Linked DNA regions of Homo sapiens: regions 2, 3 and 4 are each reported to be linked to region 1. The links are microRNA targets in miRTarBase. Many come from high-throughput screens and were not tested one by one. Region 1 holds a microRNA gene; each other region holds the end of a gene's coding sequence.

Region 1 (4,254 bases):
CCTAAGCTGTTTTTTTCTGGAAAGTAATGACAATTTGAAGAAATGAGAACCTCCAGATATATTTGGCAAATTATTAAAGATTCAGCACTAAAATTGTTGCTCCCTTGAGTGTATCATTTGCATAGGTCTCACATGGGTTTTGGCTCTCTTATGCAAGGTTTGTGGTTAACATCATTGATCAGACTGTGCTTTCTAATTCTAAAAAATTGAGCAGTGTTGGTATTCTTTCAGTATTTTTACTCTCACCTGGAAAACTACCTGGAAGTTGTCAGGCATTTGCTTACTGGTAGTGGAGGTTACAGCTGTACATGAAGCATGTACTGACTGTACTTTTAAATTGGTTTGTCAAGTATACTTTGAATCATATACCTGATGGATGTCCAAAAATATTTAAGACTCTTTGAAAAGAAGATAGTTACTTTTAAATTAGTTACCCTAAATTTCATATCTTAATACATGTACATAATTATGACATCACTTCCTTTTAAAATGTGCAGCTGTAGAATGTTAGTGGTGTTTTAATGTGGTAGATTAATATTACTTCTACTGAGCTGAACTGTCCCTGTAATTAGTACTTGGTTCCTTCTGCCATCAGAGTTTTTATTGCCCAAAGTATAGTGTTTAGGGAATACTACGAAAATCACCTTTGCAGCCTGAGCCACAGAAGAGGAAATGAGTTTGCAGGTCAAGTAAACTTTGGTCTGAGAATTACTTTAGTATCTGGAAAGAATGAGTGCAAGTTTAGGTAAATCTGGTAATACCCTGTTTTTGGAAATAGTGCAGTAGTTAATAGTGGTTATATAAGTTTGTATTTTAATTTGAAGTTAATGCTAAAGTCTGTTATACTTTATCACGATTTTTGAAAATTAAAAACTTTAAAAAACGCGATTTTAAAAACATTTGATTGATATTTGTAAAATTTCTAAGTATTTAAAACAAAGTTCTAATGATGGACATACGAGAAGTATACCATACTTTTTATCTGAATAATTTGCAGCTTGGGGATAACTTAAGTAACATCAAAGAATGAAAACGGGACTGTGTGCACACAAAGAGTTCAGTGTGTTCTCCACGGCACCACGTTAGCAATTTATCTTAAGAATTGAACGAGTTTATTAAATTTATCTCCAAATCGTCTGCCTTTGAGCCAGATTTATTTTTATAACCTGAGGTGCGGGTAAATCCTACAATTTTCAGGGGCGCTTTACCAGATATTCTAAAAGGCTGGGGATGATTAGAAATGGCATAATGCAGTTACTTGTGTACTAGAACAGGCAGTTTAACTGGCAGCCATTTTATGACGCTGATAATACATTAAAAAACGGGATTTTGGAGAAGACTGAATCTAAACTAATAGAAATCTGAAATACCAAAGCCTATTTCCTTCCCCCTCTCTGCTCTTCTGGGGAACTCTGGTGCCGACATAAAAGGCAGTTCGATAGGGCACGCAGCAGCTCTTTGAGCCCCTGGCATCTTGATGCAGGTCCAGCTCAGTCACAAAATGGCTGTTCCTTTGTGCCGCAGCGCTGACAGACATACTGCATTGCACTGTGTACTCGCCAAACAGCAGGAAGTTGCCGTGCCGAGTTCAAAGGCCGGCCGGCGCCGGCGCGGGGTGCTGATTGGCTGTGCGCGCGCCTGGTAACAGCAGGGTCAACGGCGGCGCCTTCGGCAGCCTCCGCCCCGTGACGTCAGACGGCTCCCCTGGGGGGCGGGGAGAGAACGCAGTGACGTCTGGCCGCGTGCGCATGTCGGGCGCTTTCTCCTCCCCCTACCCAGGGAGCCGCACGCCGAGGGGAAAAGGAAGGGAACTCTAGTTGGGACTTTCCGGTGGGCGGCTTCTTTCCTGGACGCGTTTGCTCCTGGCAGTCTTGTCCGCCCTTGCCTGTAGCGGTCCGCACCCTGTAGTGTGTTCTTTTGCCCATTTCCGGGAATGGTTTATCCTCTTTGAGAAGCGGCTGCTTTTGGAGAAAAAGTGCAGGCACTATTTATAAATTTTAAAGGCACTATTTGGAAATCTTAAAATAGAAAATTTGCCCAGTTTTACATTTTCCCTTTTCATACCTTAGCGTCCCTTCTCCCCGCCCCCGTTCAGTGTGAAGAGATGAGTGGGTTTAATTTTGTTACAATTGACCAAAACGTTTGAGTGTCAGAGGCGGATACTTTTATTTTAGTGAAAACCTCTTGACGGGTGTTAACAGCTGTTTAATACATGGCTCATAAACAAAGGGAAGATTATTTGAACTTGTCCCCATGCGTTTTTACTTGGTACCGTACATTTTCTCAGTTGGCATTTGATGGAGAAAAACTCAGGTCAGTATGTGCTAAGTACTATATATTTAAGATTCACAGTGGGATAGTTTAGTAGAAAATAGAAAATTTCACGTTCAATAACATTAAAAAGTGGCAGAATACAGCGTTAGGCAACCATTACTATGTAAGTAAATGTCAGAAAACTACTCTTTTAAGTGTTAATAGCACTTGCTAATGCAGGGTGACTGACAGCTTGGCTGATAGTGGGGTCACTTGGCCAAATCTTCGCAATTATCTTCCCTAGGCCTCCATTTCGGGAATTCTGAGTCCCGGTAAACGGTTGGGTTTATGCTCACTGATTTGCCTTGTTTGGAAACCTTTACAAGGATTTCTGGTTAAAACTTCATCGTTCAGCAACGATGTCTTAATAATTAAATTACACATACTGAATTTAAGCAAGCAAGAAATTCAGTGGATTTATCTACTGTGGACAAAGTTTTTTTCCTGCCATACTAGAGTTTTTTTAGCAGTTGGAGTAGGCTGTCCTGTAGTTAGCCATAGTTTAGAGTTATTTTAGTAAAGTGTGTTACTTCAAAGGAGATGTTGACCCTTCAGTGCAGGTGATATTTGCTTGGGCGTATGTCAAGTTTCTGAATACAGTCTGTGAAAGTTAGAATTCACTATGATAGTGAGTTTTGTAGGTTCTCATAATCTAGGTTCTTTGGGAAGAATTATTTGGATAGTTTGTGAAAACTAGCTGAAATTGCTTTTTCTGTTACAGAGAAGTGTTCATCAAATAATTTGTACCTGATTTTAAAATTATATGCTCAAATGTATATTGCGTATAAAATGCTAACAGAGAATTAAGTGTTTATAGAACTTGATGAACGTTTAACTGTAGCTTCCAACTTAAAGTATACCTGCCACAAGAACGAAAGTAATAATCTCACCTCCCTTTTTGTGTAGAGACTGAATTCTAATTAGTTGTGTTAATAGTATTTGCTGAATACCTTTCAATTCCTAAAACTGGGGTCAAAGTAGTCAACATTGCAGTTAATTATTTTTGAAGAGGATATGAACTATTCTGTTATTTAAGATATTTTAACCTAAATACCATTATGAGTTAAAATGCATACCATGATATAACAATTTACCTATTAACTGTTGACAATCTTGCAGCCAATTAAGTTTTTTATAGAACCAGTGTTCTTAGGTATGTTTGTTGAGCCTTCTACTTTTTTTCCCTTTGATGTGGGGAATAGCATCAAGCAGCAAGAAAAGAGTGTTGATCGATTTCTCTCTCTTTCTCTCTCTCTCTCTGTATCCTTGCCGTTTAAAATATGCACTTTCCAACTAGTATTTGGCCGTTAGGGAGTTAGTATCTTTGTAAAGATTAAGTCAGCAGAGGAAGGTGGGCAAATAATATTTTTGATAAAGACTTTTGGTTGTGACAGTTGTAGCAAGTTATTGCTTGAGGAGTGAATCTGGAAGTTTATTTGAATTTTAACTAAAACTCACAGATTTTATCATTAGTTTACTCTCCCTTACCCCCAAATAAAACAACTGACAGTTATGAGAGACCTCCTGAGACCACCTGGTATTTCCAAACTCCTATCATTTCTCCCATAAAATTTGATACACTAAGTTTGTTTCTGGTATAAAAATTGAGTGACTGCTCTGTGTCAGCCATTAAATTTTTTCTTGCTATGAGCCATCTTTTTTTTTTTTTTTTTTTTAAGATCCTTTAGTTTTTAGCTGCTTCTTGGTAACCTTAGAACTTTGCTTCCTTGAAGAACTTGGCTTTCTTGATATGGTGTCACTTGAACAAAGAAACTTAAAAAAAAATTCCTCTAAGAGTATTTTGTGTACAGGTGAAAGTAACTTTGTGGCTTGGTTACACTGGGTGTGTCACAGCTGAGTAACTCCCTCCTGCACTTCAGCTTGACTAAGCGTTGAGTTCACATGTATACCTTTGCAAAGCTGCCATTCACAACTTGTTTT
Region 2 (4,226 bases), not on the chromosome of region 1:
GGCAGGAGCAGACCTAATGAGCAATCTGACTGTGCTCTACATTTGGTCCACTTAAAATGAGAAGAATGTACAAGTTTTAGGGTTTTCTGTGTTGTAAGTTCCCAGAATAAACGTAGTTACAGGGTAGGGCTGCAGGTTAGGGACTGCCTGGAAGATAGGATGAAATGTATTTTGTTCATTTGATTTCTGTTTTTATTTCATCTTGAGCATGTGAAAAATCAGTGGCTTTTTAAACTTTCAAAGTTGACTGCCTAGACTGATAAGTTTAAGAACACACAAGTAAATGTCAACAGTCTCTTGTGTTGCTGACACACTCAAACCAGTGCTAAAACAATTTTTGTCTTAACTCTGAATTATACATGTTCAGACCTGCTATTGAAACAAATGCATTTTGATATTTGGATTTTTCTAAACTAAACACACAGCTGTGCTAGGCTCTTTGCTCTGTTAGCCTTCTGACCATTTTATAGCTCTAAGCATGTGATATTTTCTCCTAGAAGACTCCGAAGTGCTAGAATATTTTCAGAGGGCAAAGCCTTATAATAATTCTTACTGGAAGCAAACTAAACAAAAACCAAGTTCCAGAAAACATTGCTTCTGAGAAATTCTCAAATATCATCAAGAAGAATAAGTGGTTAACTTAAAAACAAAACTATGGCAATATGTTAAAGTACAATACTGCAGTAAGGGTAGAAAACACATCTAAGGTTTCACCCTTAGTGTTAAGCTTTTTAAAAGCAAAAAGGTCATGTGTATCAATTTGCAGTGTACTAAAATTGTGTTCAAAGTTTATTTCAAGTCACAGAAAATATACAAACTAAGACAATAAAATGAAGTGATTTTGTTCTGAGAGAAGGTGATGGGAGTCCTCCACCTGGCACTGATTTGAGTCATTCAAGGGTTAGGATGCAGGTCATCTTTTTTCAATATTTCAACAAAATTATAGAATTTCCAGATTTCTTGCCAGGTATTTTTGAAAACCTGTAAGAAGAAGTTAGGACAAAGCCATTAGAAGTGAAGACAAAGCTCTCTTCCGGAAAAACTTCAGGAAAAAAAATAAAAAGGCTAGGGGAGGGAGGACAGGCATATAATCAAATCACCAGGACAGATTTGCAAAGTATCTGTCTCCTGCCTCCTGACTCCTCAAAGCAATCAGCCCTTGCAGCAGGGTTTCTCAACCTCAGCACTACTGACATTTTGGGCTGGAGTACTAGTTGCTATTGGGAAGTGGGTGAGGGGGACCATCCTGTGCATTATGGGATGTTTAGCAGTATCTCTGGCCTCTACCCACTGAATGCCAGTAGCATGCCATACTCCCTAAAGTTGTGATGACCAAAAACGTCTCAAGACAATGTCACCTAGGGGGCAAAACTGCCCTTGTTTGAGAACCATTCATCTCTAATGACAACAGTATAGAAGCCTGTCCATGATGGCAGAGATGGATCACAACTAGCTAGGTATAGGATGGAGGAAAACCCAACACTTTAGCCATGGTATGCACAAACACCAGTAGACACACAATAAAATCTTGCCCACATAAAATTGCATAGAACCACACATACATATACACAAATCATGATAGTTTTTTTAAAATGGTGAAAACTGAGTTTGCAGTCAAGTTAACAGTAATGTGCCAATGTCAATTTCTTGGTTTTGCACTACACTGGGTGAAGGGTACATGAGACTCCTTGTACTATTTTTCCAACTTTCCTTGAGTCTATGATTATTTAAAAATAAAAGGTAAAAAAATAGACAAAAACTTTGCCTTGTGGTTAATATGCAAGGCCTTAAATTAAACATCCTATAAGCAAAACTATAATGAAAGAAATTTCAGAAACATTTCTACCTCTACTATCCAGAAACAGTAAGGAGTAATTTTCTCACATTGTAGGGAATGCCTTCTCTGGCTTAAGTAAATTAGTAAAAGAAATAATTTTTATTTATTCCTCTGAATGTAATAGGTAGTCTATACTTTTACTAAAAAAAAAGAATATGTGGGGTTTGTGGAATAAAACGTTAAGGTACCAAAAGTCTACTGAGCCTTCTATCTATGATAGCTTCTCATTAATTCATTTAAGGTCTAAATACATATATGATGCATAGTCGCAGTTTAAATGTTTAAAGACATCACAAGTATGGATTAAAATGATATATTTTGTAAGAGTGGTAATTATTAATAGTTAAATGAGTTCACTATTATATAACATAAGAATAGGAATTATAATATGGATGGGGTAAAAAGTAGAAATTTAAATTGTGCTGTCCTACCTGATAGTGGGGCAACATGAATTTTAAACTGTTTTTAGAAAAAAGAACTGTTTATAAAATACAAAATGCTGGGGAAATTTTTTTTAAAAAAGAAACACTGATACATGTATGTGTAATCAAGTTGTCACATGATTATTTATGAAGCAGGTTACCTGGATCCTTTTTTTTTTTTTTTTTTGACACAGAGTCTCACTCTGTGACCCAGGCTAGAGTGCAGTGGCATAATCATGGCTTACTGCAGCCCTGACCTCCTGGACTCAACCAGTCCTCCCACCTCGGCCTCACAAGTAGCTGGAACTATAGGCGCATCTCACCATGCCTGGCTAATTTTTTAAAAAATTTTTGTAAAGATGGGGTCTCACTATGTTGCTTAGGCTGGTCTTGAACTCCTGGTCTCAAGTAATCCTTCCACCTCAGCCTGCCAAAGCTGAGATTACAGGGCTCAGCCACTGTGCTTGGCCCCTGGATTCTTTCTGCCTAAATGATGAGCAAGAAAAATAAGGGTAGCAGGGTACAGCGATCTCCAAAATATATAGAAACTGATGGTGATGACGGACATTTACTACCTTAAATTATGTGCTACTATAGTTCAACATCAAAATATTCCCTATAAAATAAATACAAGAAACAAAATATTTACACATTTTATTGAAATGCTTTGTATTTTTCCATTTTGACAGGACAGTTTGGAATAAAATAATACAATTGATTGTAGAAGGATACACACCAAACTATATTTAGAGGTTTTGTCTGGGGAATGAGATTGAGGAAACAGGGCTTTTTACCTTTCACCTTCTACATTTCTGTATATGATTACTTTTGTTAAACTGATCATACATTACCTTTGTCATTAGGAAAGATTATAAGCAATTCAACAACTGAACAAACATTGTATAGCCTTACTCTATCCCTACAGGAGCTGACCTACTGAAGGGTAAAGAAGAGTCTAGCTGAGTGGATTGAGGGCCGCTGAGAGAACAATCTTGTTGGTTAAGGTTAAAAGTATATACCCAGAATAGACAAGGAGCTAGTCCTACTCAGATGGGGATTAAGTTTGCTCACCTATCAAGGTGCTCCAGTGGATTTCTGTATTTGTTCCTTTAAAATCAGGATACTCTGCCTTTGCTCAGGAGGCAACATGGCAATCTGGTCTGCAGTCAGTTGTAGAACCTGCATAATCAAAGCAGCCTGTGCAGAGGAAAAAAAAAAGGTAGTGAGTTTTAATGATGGCAGCTAAAAAATACAAAACAAAACAAAAAACCCACCACCAGCTTCTGTCCAAAAAGCTACTGTAGTGGGATATGAAGCAAAATGGAAAAAGGAAGAACATTTCACACAGAAAAAAACCAACAGCCCCCCTCCAAAAAAAATAAAAAATAAAAAAAAACTGGTGAGAAAAGGTACAATGAAAAGAACAAGTATAAATTAAAATACCTAAGATTAGACGATTCAAAACAGACAACTTCATGAACTCAAAGTTCCTGGAGACTAAGATGGTATCTGTGAGCCCTGGAAATCCTTCAAGTTTTAATCCTGTTTTGAAAGTCTCTCTTTTTCACAAATTTTAGCCTTTCCATCAGACATAAGCTCCCCACAATGGTCAAATATAAAAACAGAAAGATATAATCATGGGGAATCTACTATTGTTTTTAGGGATAAAGTAGAAAGGGAAGGAAAAAGGGTGTGGATTTTCAGGTCAATCTGGCCTGAACAAGAAAAACCTGCTATTGGCAGATGAGTGTGAAATATAAAATAAGCTGCCATTTACATCCACTTAAGAACTTCACATCCATTAGGAACTTCAGGACCAGACTCACAAATTTTCAGGTAACAAGATCATAAAAGAGTTCTAAGTTAGAATAAACATCACCTCCAAAGGGACTTTGAAGACCCAGGATCGTCACATGGTAACTGTGAAAAGAGGAATCAAAAAGGCTAGAATTGTGCATAAGGAGGCA
Region 3 (4,254 bases), not on the chromosome of region 1:
GCTCACTGCAACCTCTGCCTCCTAGGTTCAAGCAGTTCTCCTACCTTGGCCTCCCAAGTAGCTGGGATTACAGGCGCACACACATCACTACACTGGCTAATTTTTTCTATTTTTTAGTGGAGATTGGGTTTCACCATGTTGACCAGGCTAGTCTTGAATTCCTGACCTCAAGTGATCCACCAGCCTTGGCCTCCCCAAAGTGGTGGGATTGTAGGTGTGAGCTGCCACACCCAGTTTTTTTGTTTTTTTTGTTTGAGACAGTCTTGCTCTGTTGCCCAGGCTGGAGTGTGCAGTGGCACAGTCTCAGCTCACTGCAACCTCTGCCCCCGGGGTTCAAGTGATCCTCCAGCCTGGGCCTCCCAAGTAGCTGAGATTACAAGTGTGCACCACCAGGCCCATCTAGTTTTTGTATTTTTAGTAGAGACAGGGTTTCACCGGGTTGGCCAGAACTTCTGACCTCAGGTGATCCACCTGCCTCGGCCTCCCAGAGTGCTGGGATTACAGGTGTGAGCCACTGCGCCCGGCTTTTATCTTTACATCGAACCAAAGAGGATGCCAAGGATCTTCACTGGCTCTCACATAAGACGGCCATGATCAGGTACTGGCTCACTGCATGGCCCAGGCTGCTGCTTTCTCTGATACAACCTCCCCGAGCCTCCTCACCTCAGCTTTTTAAATTTTTTTTCAGACAGGGTCTCACCCCGTGGCCCAGGCTGGACTTGCGATCACAGCTGGCTGCAGCCTCAACCTCCTGGGCTCAAGCGATCCCAGGAGCTGTGGGTAAATCGAGTGAACTGCACTGTGTTGAAGGTGCAGGATTGGAGTCCGGGTGCTGGGGGACTCACCCTCTCGCTCCTGGAGTCCAGAAGCCAGGACACCTTGGTCACTGTCCTGTGGCCTGCTTCACCCCAGGGCCCTCCTTCAGAAATTAGTTGGAGTTTTTTTTAGTAACTGCTCAAGTCAGCTATGAGTCACTGACCAAAGGACAAAGTGGTGCTGAACAGTGACTGCCAGGCTCCTATCTGAGGCTCAGAGAGCACTTGTTCTAGACGCTTTCTGTTGTCACAGGGAAAGACAGCTCAAGCAGGAACACAGGCAGTGTGTCACCCCCAGGCCTCACTCCTTGCTGCACCTGTGCAGTCTGGCCTTCCTGGGCTTTGTCCTTCACCTGCTGTTTGACCACATGTACCTGTCCACAAAGCAGTGACTGTGGGGCAGTCGCAGGGCTGACAGGTGCGGCAGAGGCAGAAGAGGCACCCAAGGGCGGCGGGGCCGTCAAACACTGACGCACTCTCCTCCTCCCCCAGATGTTAGCACTTTAAGAAACTTATCGAGGAGCCAAGGTTGGGAGGGATCGGCTGGGGAAGTGGGATCCCCACCTTTAAATGGACCATGCACATACACGTAAAACAGTGATATCTTGGAGACAAGTTATCAAATCCCCCCACACTGAGCAGATGCCAGACAACAGTTGAGTGCGCAGGAAGGACACACCAGGACCAGGCAGTTGCTTCAGGCGCTTTTATTAGGTTCCACTGCAGGGCTGGGGTCAATGTAATGCAAATCCAAGCCCAGTGATGCACACCTGTGAGCCGAAACAGAGCCGAAGCAGGAGCACCTGTGTCCCAGGAGCAGCTGGTTGGAGGGAGCCAGGGCCAGGCCCCACCTCCTCTCGGGACCAGGAGACTGGCAGCCGCTGTGTTCACCTGGGCAGGTGTGCACCCAGTCACCCCCACTGGATTATGGTGCTGGTAGCATGAGAGGGTGTGTCCACACCAAGGGCAGGTGAAGATGCGAGGTGGGGCTGAGACCTCCTTCCCACAAGAGGAGGTGGCTGAGCCTCCCAGGGCCTGAACTCTCACAGCAGGGCTCACCCCCAAGCCTGTATGCTTAGCTCTGACTCTCTTTGGACAATAAAATAAAGTGCATTACTGAACAAAGAGTAACTCAAAACCAGAATCAGACAAATCGCCAATGCTTTTCCTTTAGCTAAAAGACAAAAGAAAACATGAATGATGTGAATGCCGGAACTTCAGAGTAAGGGAAATGCTGGTGGAGGACAACGGAAACTATAATAGCGTGGTGGATAAGGACGAGCGAGTGGGAGAGGAACTGGCAACGCGGCTCTCTCTAGAAGTCCGTGCTGTCCAGCCTCTGCCCAGTGGTGGGGGAAGGCCTTGGACTCACAGGGAAGCAATGCAGGAAGCCTTGGCCACCTAGGCTCACAGCTCATCTCAGGACCAGAGGAGACAGCAGAGGACAAAACTTCAGTGTGACAGCTGCTAGGAGGGAGAGCAGACAGCCCGCGGTGGGCAAGCTGGGAGTTGCATCCGCAGCAGTCCGCTTCAACCCAGCTCCTCTCCACCCTTCCTGACCCTCCACAATAGCTCTGCCGTGACCAGACCCAACCCAACTGGCCCCTGGTCCCAAGAGCAGATGAGCTGCTTGGGCCTTCCACTTGGTGTCCCATGCCAGGCGGACCTGGAGGTGTCAGCCATGGCCCTGACCACTTCAGAAGCCAACAGGCAAATGTTCTCTGTTCATAGTGCCAAGAATGTGGGTCACGTGGGCTTACCCCCCAGGATGGACACAGAAGTCCCTAAGCAGTCTGCAGCTGGGCCAGCCTCTCCCGTGGGTGCAGAGCAGCCCAGATGTGGCCATCATTAAGGCAAAGAAGCATCGAGATGCCCACCACTCCCCGGGTAAGAGCCATGCCCCGGCCTGGCCACGCCACAGAGGAACGCAGAGCACACAAGCAGGACCCCACCACGTGCTGTTCCAGATCGCCCAGTCTCCCTCTATTGGTACACTATCAATTGTGCAGTGCCCCAGGGAGGTCCCAAATGGCCCTCACAAGAGGCACAGCCCCTAACGCCCTCAGCCAGGCGGTGCAGTGGGACGAAGCAGCGTATTGGGGAGGGCCAGAGCATCGGCACCGGTGACCCAGCTCTCCCACCCAGGCCATCGCAGGGCAGCCTCAGGGCAGGCGCCACCACTGCTCCTGCTCAGCCCGCAGTATCTGCAGTTGCTGCAGCTGTGTGGCTTGGTAGAAAAGTCTCAGGCACTGAGGTTTACTTCAAGGGAGAACTGACTGGTGCCCCCGTCCACACTCATCACCCTGGACACAACCTCGGGGGCTTCACTAAAGGAGGGAAGGATGTGGAAACTAGTCTCTCTCACTCCCCTTTTGTGCAGTTTTTATCTTAAAAAAAAATAAATAAAAGTCTTCTGGGCAGGAATTACTGATAACTGTTATTATAACCAATGCAGACTTTAAAATCCCACCTGGACATCGGGTGAGAGGAGGAGGGCAGGCAGCAAACCGACCTGCAGACCTGCAGAGGGGAGCCGTGTCCAGGGCCACTGCGTCCCCACCAGACAACAGCTACTAGAAGAGGAAAGTGGCCCTCACAGGCAGGGTGCCTGCCACCAAGCAGTCAGACAAGGGGGTAACCAAGAGCTCCCAGCCAGAAAAACATGGGGGCAGGGAGGCCAAACAAAAAGCACTGAAAATAAAGAGAAGGCTGGGTGGTGGCAGCATCGGCCCCTCCCTGTGCGCCCCAATTCCAGGTGCCACGTAGAGGCGAGAGGTCTTTCCAACACGGCGGGGGACTTGTCAACAGGATTAGGCGTGAGGAGCCGCTCTGCGTTTCCAGTCTGGAGACTGCATTCAGCCTGCAGAATACCAGCCGTGGCGCCCGCTCTCCAGGGAGGAACGTGCTGAGAAGCTTCAGTGGGTCAGGGAGCCCAGGACAGCCAGCCCCTTGTTCCTCCAGGGCTGCCCACTATGGGGCAGTTACAGGGAACACACTCAGCAACGCTTCTGGCTTCAGGAAGGGCTGGGCTGGGCCCGGTCCTAGCCAGCAGAGGGCAGGCGCCCTAGGTCCTGGGGAGGCTGCACATCTCGCAGTGGCCTGTGCCTGGCTGGTTCATGAACGTGCAGTGCTGACAGGCCCACATGGCTGCAGTGGCCGTGTGTGTGGAGCCCCCGACGGCGCCGTACTCATGGAGACCTGGGAGCTGCCCGCCAACTGTGCCTGCAGGGTGGAAGAGAAATGAGCACTCATCATTTCTGGCCCACCAGAGACTGCCAGAGTGTGGGCATGGGGGCAGGGGCAGGCAGCTGAGAGCTCCCCGCCCCCAACATCCCACCCAGTGCTGGTCCTGCCCACACAGCACTCCCACCACAGGCACACTTTGAAGTGCTTAATGCCCTCAGAAAAATGCCTCCTGCACCACAGGGAGTAACAGGGA
Region 4 (4,254 bases), not on the chromosome of region 1:
AGCTGGGACTGGAGCCCCGCAAGGAAGGACAGGGGCTGCTCTCGGCCCACTCCTCGGCAGGCCAGACTCGGCAGGGCCCCCAGCCGGGAGCGGGTCGACTCTTTCCCAGCTCGCTCCCGCCGCTGGGAACGGTGCAGAAAAGCCCGCCGAGCTTTCCACTGCCGACCTGGGCCTAGGCCGGGGCTGACTGCGGCCGCCACCTCCTCCGGGCCGCAAAGCCGAGACCCAAGGAGAGTGGAGAGTCGCAGGCACGTGGGCTCGGAACACGCTGAGCCTGCAGCTCGCCCGAGGGCTTCTGGCATCCTTGAGGCCGAGCGACTCCCCGCACGGCCACTGCCAAGCGACTGGTGGCCTCTGCAAACCTCACACACCGCGCGAGGACGCAGCCCTGCCGGGGAGGCCGCCTGGGGCCGCAGCGCCGGCCCGGGCAGGTCTGGTGCGGCCAGGCCGAGGCGGGTGGGCCGGGGGTGGCCCTGCAAACGCGCAGCTCCGGGTCCCGCGCCTGGAGGCTGCGGGCCGGCGCGGGGCGAGCTGTCACCCGTGAGCAATGAAGTGCCTCTGACCTTTCCACCCCAGCTGCGCTCCTAAACACACGTGCGTCTTCACAACAAAGGAGGCCAGCGAGGAGGAAGTGAGAGCTCGGCGGGGCCCTGCGGCGCCAGGCGGAGACGCGGGGTGACCGGGCGAGGGAGCGGGCTCCTCCGAGCTTCTCGGCCGGAGCCCCGAGGGCGCTTCTCCCGGCTCGGCGCCCCCCGCCCCGTCCCCGTCCCCGGCACCGCGCGCCTGCCACCCTCCCTCAGCGCGCGCTTCCCGGCACCCCGACCCAGCCCGCGAGGAACCCAGCGAAACTAACAGGGGTCTCCCTTTGACTCGCTTTTCTCCAACGACTAATTTCAGGAGGAGGCCGCGGAGGCCGGGGCTAATCTGGGGAGGGGGGTGTGGGGAGGAAGGAGCTCCAAACGCAAACCGAAGCCGGGCCCCGCGCCGCCGCGGGTAATTACAGCTCATTAGCTGGAGAGCGTTGCCGTCGCGAGCGGCGTCCAGGAGGCCGGCGTCGGGGCGGGCGCGACTCGGAAGGGACCGGGCCTGCGAGAAACGCCCCAGCCGGAAAGCCAGGCGTGGGCCGCGCGGGTCTCCACCCGCCACCCCCTACTCCACAGAGTCCGACCGGACACGTCGAGAACGGTACCGTCTCCGGCGGCCGAGCTGCTCCGCCTCGGGCTGGGCCAGCCCGCCCGTGGGGACAGGGCCGTGAGTCACCTGCTGCAGCTCCCCTTCCGGGCCTCGACACCCCAGCTCCGGCCGCGGGCCCTTTGTCCGCAAATCCCAGCTCCTCGCCGGGCTCCCCAAAGTGGAGCGATCACACCAAACTCCTGGAGACTGGCGGTGGAGTCTCTACCGTCACCCCCTCCCCTTCCCCCGCCCCGAAAGAGGCTGTAACCCGAGGAAGCTGGAGGCAGCCCCGGGACCTAGCGCCGCGACAGCCCAGCGAGATTTAAACGGGGCCGTGAGGCCACCCCCAGCCCGCCTGCCCCGAGGAGACACCCGCGCCAGCGCCGCTGCGATCTTCCCGGCGATTAGGTTACGACCCTGGGGGAGGGGACCGAGCGAATCACAGGCCACGTAGAGCAGTTTTTGACTGAAATTAAAGTGTATTTATTTGCAGCAATCCTTTAACAATGATCAAATTTTGACAACAAGCAACAGCAATTACTGCTTAAGTGTTGCCTCTAGATAGGAGCGGCAGATAGCAGGAAACTGTATTATCTCCAAAACAAACTGCAAGCCCCCCACCCCCCCGAACGTCTGTAATCAAATCGCCATCTCCCCAAAGTCTGATTGGCAGGGCAGATCACCCTAAGATAATGAATTTATTACATTTCCTGGGTTATTTACAAAAGGGGGAGGGCCAATCCGGATTGTCCCCTAGGTTTAACTGTAAATTAACAAGAAAAAATGGTTTAAAAAGAAACCACCCTAGACCAAAATGTTCTGCTCCTCTCGCCTTCCTTCTTGTTATTGCTTTAAATCTTTTTCAAAAATAATTGTTCTACAAACATATTTTCTAAAATAGTTTCTCAAAGATTAAATATCCCTTTCCAACCCGCAGTATATTTTTAAAAAAGCAATCCTTCTATGTAATACATGAAGGATTGTAAATGGGGGAGAATTATATACATACATTTAAAAACTGGTTTATTTTTCCTTTTATAAAGGACTGAAATAATAGGAAAATATCTATTCAGCATCTGGCTCACAGGGATGTATAATATGCACTGCAATTTTATATGGAATACACAAGCCAAATATTTATCTGTGCATATCTGGCCGCACAGTCCCATCTCTCGGCACACAGGCATCACCGTGGTAAGACCGCGGCTGATTCATGGGCTTAAAATTTCCGAATCATGGACTGTCATTAGTGAGAAAACGTATTTGTTTATATGCCAACTCCAATCTGTTTAGAAAAATATCTTTTTACTAGCCTCAAAGCAAGCTGACTATATAGTACATTTTGCAGAAGATGCTGCAGGAAAATAAATCTAAACAAAAAGACTTTTAGTAAAATTTGACATGGACTAGTCAGAGGGTTTCTCCATTTTTCAGAGATTTAGGTGGAGAATAGGTAACTTCTAGTGTTTTATCTCTGAAATCTTTTTTCGTAATAATTAAAGCTCTATTAAAGTATCCAGACATATAGGTCTCATTCAAACTGAATGGTAATTTATTAATAAACAAACAATGAATATGTTCAACAAAAAGAAAGAAAAGAGGATAGAATAAGATTAATACAGTTTCCCTTTTTATAATGAGAAAAAAAGCACAATTTAAAGTTTCAGGCAATTTAACGTCAGGTTTTGGGAACACTTTCTGGCGTTTGGTCCACGACATCCAACTACAAATTAAAAATAAATTACTATGTTGCAATTTACATTTTAAAACAAGTCCATGAATAAAAAGAAAGCGACTTTCATAAACGGGGACTTTCCCCCTCCCTTCAACATAGGATAAAATAATATCTTACAGGTGAGAGGCAAGGAAGAAGGCAAGAGAGGGGAGACGGGAGGAGGGGAAAGCAGGTCTCTGAAAAGCAAGAAGAAACTTACGTGTTATCTGGAGTAACACTGTCCTTTAATAAACCAAGATTTTGCTGTCTCTGTATAAAACAGTTTACGGGTTTGTTTATTTAGACAAGGCAAAGTGGAGGTGGCTCTGAATTAATCGGTTAAGAAAATAGAGTTTTCTTCGTGCTGGTGCTGGTGAGCTGAATTTTTGGAGGGATATTCTGTTCGCTGGTGTGGTGAATATTCTCAGGGGTTTTTTTTAATTGGATTTTTTTTTTTTAGTTTCGATTTTGCCTTGATGGGTTCCTTTAGCTTTTCCTGCTTTGGGGTTCGATTTAGTTCGGCTTTGAGGGTGTGTCAAAACTTGCTACAGTCGTAGACGAAAGCTCCGGACGTGCGGTACAGAGACTGGCTGGAAGGGAAGGCCATTTGACAGCTACTATTCCCGTTCACTGGAGAGTTGTTCAAGCCGATCCTCTGTGACTCGAACATCTCCCGCACCGAGTGGAAGTTCTGCTGCTGGCCCGGGTAGCCTGCGGCCGCCGCCGCCGCCGCCGCGCTCGCCAAGTGGCCCAGGTCTCCGCCCGCCTGGTTCAGGTACCACGAGGTGAGGCGGCCTTGGTGGGCCGCAGGGTGGTGGCCGGCCTCCTGGCCTCCCCCGCCGCCGCCGCCGCCGCCGCCGTGACTCAGGGACGACGAGCTGCTGCTGGTGACCGGAGGCAGAGAGTAGTCGGGCAGGGGGTCGTCCACGGCCGAGCCGCCCGCGCCCCCGGGCGCGCCCTGCAAGTGGCCCCCGCGCTCGCCGGCCGCGTACAGGCTCATGGCTTGCAGGTTGCAGTGGTAGGTCCCGGCGCCGCCCGCGCCCCCCGCGGCCCCCGCGCCGCCGCCGCCGCCGCCCGAGCTGCCCGCGCTGGAGGTCTGGCTGCAGGGGGAGCTGTAGAGGGAGCTCTGGCCGGGCGAGTAGGCGCCGAGCGCCAGCGGGGGTGCGATCCCCGCGCGCGAGGACGCGGCCGCCGAGGCCAGAAGGCCGGAGCTGAGCTCCGCGGCCGCGCTCTGCGGCGACCCCCGCAGCGACGTCATGATGTTGTCCACGCTGAAGCCCTGGCTATGGTGCGGCGGCGGGGCGGAGGGCGCGGGCGGCGGCGGCGCGGAATCCGCACCGTCCAGGCTGAGCGGCCGCGCCGACGGC

What was found. Region 1 holds the annotated microRNA hsa-miR-3175 (CGGGGAGAGAACGCAGUGACGU, at 1,713-1,734, shown strand). A microRNA usually pairs through its seed, bases 2 to 8, with sites in the 3' UTR of a target mRNA and lowers its output. Matches are read on the target gene's strand: a 7mer-m8 pairs with bases 2 to 8, a 7mer-A1 pairs with bases 2 to 7 and ends in A, and an 8mer does both.
Region 2: miRTarBase lists CSTF2 as a target of hsa-miR-3175. The part of its 3' UTR that is shown has no 7-base or 8-base seed match.
Region 3: the mRNA of NPLOC4 is a reported target of hsa-miR-3175. Seed matches in the 3' UTR shown: 7mer-A1 at 2,913-2,919.
Region 4: miRTarBase lists FOXC1 as a target of hsa-miR-3175. Seed matches in the 3' UTR shown: 7mer-m8 at 3,055-3,061 and 7mer-m8 at 2,163-2,169.

What each region holds. Positions count from the first base shown.
Region 1 is chr15:92,902,696-92,906,949 of GRCh38, forward strand. MIR3175 (microRNA 3175) reads left to right here and starts at 1,704; the gene lies at 1,704-1,780. All of the region lies in intron 2 of CHD2 (chromodomain helicase DNA binding protein 2), which reads left to right. RefSeq lists enhancers at 1,237-2,436, 1,298-1,477, 1,758-1,997 and a silencer at 1,548-1,597.
Region 2 is chrX:100,837,469-100,841,694 of GRCh38, reverse strand. It overlaps CSTF2 (cleavage stimulation factor subunit 2), which reads right to left. Exons shown (of 14, transcript NM_001325.3): 13 at 3,331-3,456; 14 at 175-981. The coding sequence ends at 3,334. Among named protein-coding and RNA genes, the nearest start is that of CSTF2, 19 kb to the right of the region's middle.
Region 3 is chr17:81,555,380-81,559,633 of GRCh38, forward strand. NPLOC4 (NPL4 homolog, ubiquitin recognition factor) reads right to left here. Exons shown (of 17, transcript NM_017921.4): 17 at 1,508-4,037. The coding sequence ends at 3,880. It overlaps LOC124904085 (a long non-coding RNA gene), which reads left to right. Exons shown (of 2, transcript XR_007065947.1): 2 at 1-1,940. Among named protein-coding and RNA genes, the nearest start is that of FAAP100, 5.2 kb to the left of the region's middle. RefSeq lists enhancers at 3,332-3,833, 3,834-4,254.
Region 4 is chr6:1,611,276-1,615,529 of GRCh38, reverse strand. It overlaps FOXC1 (forkhead box C1), which reads right to left. Exons shown (of 1, transcript NM_001453.3): 1 at 1,633-4,254. The coding sequence ends at 3,423. Among named protein-coding and RNA genes, the nearest start is that of FOXC1, 3.5 kb to the right of the region's middle. RefSeq lists enhancers at 669-1,285, 1,286-1,903.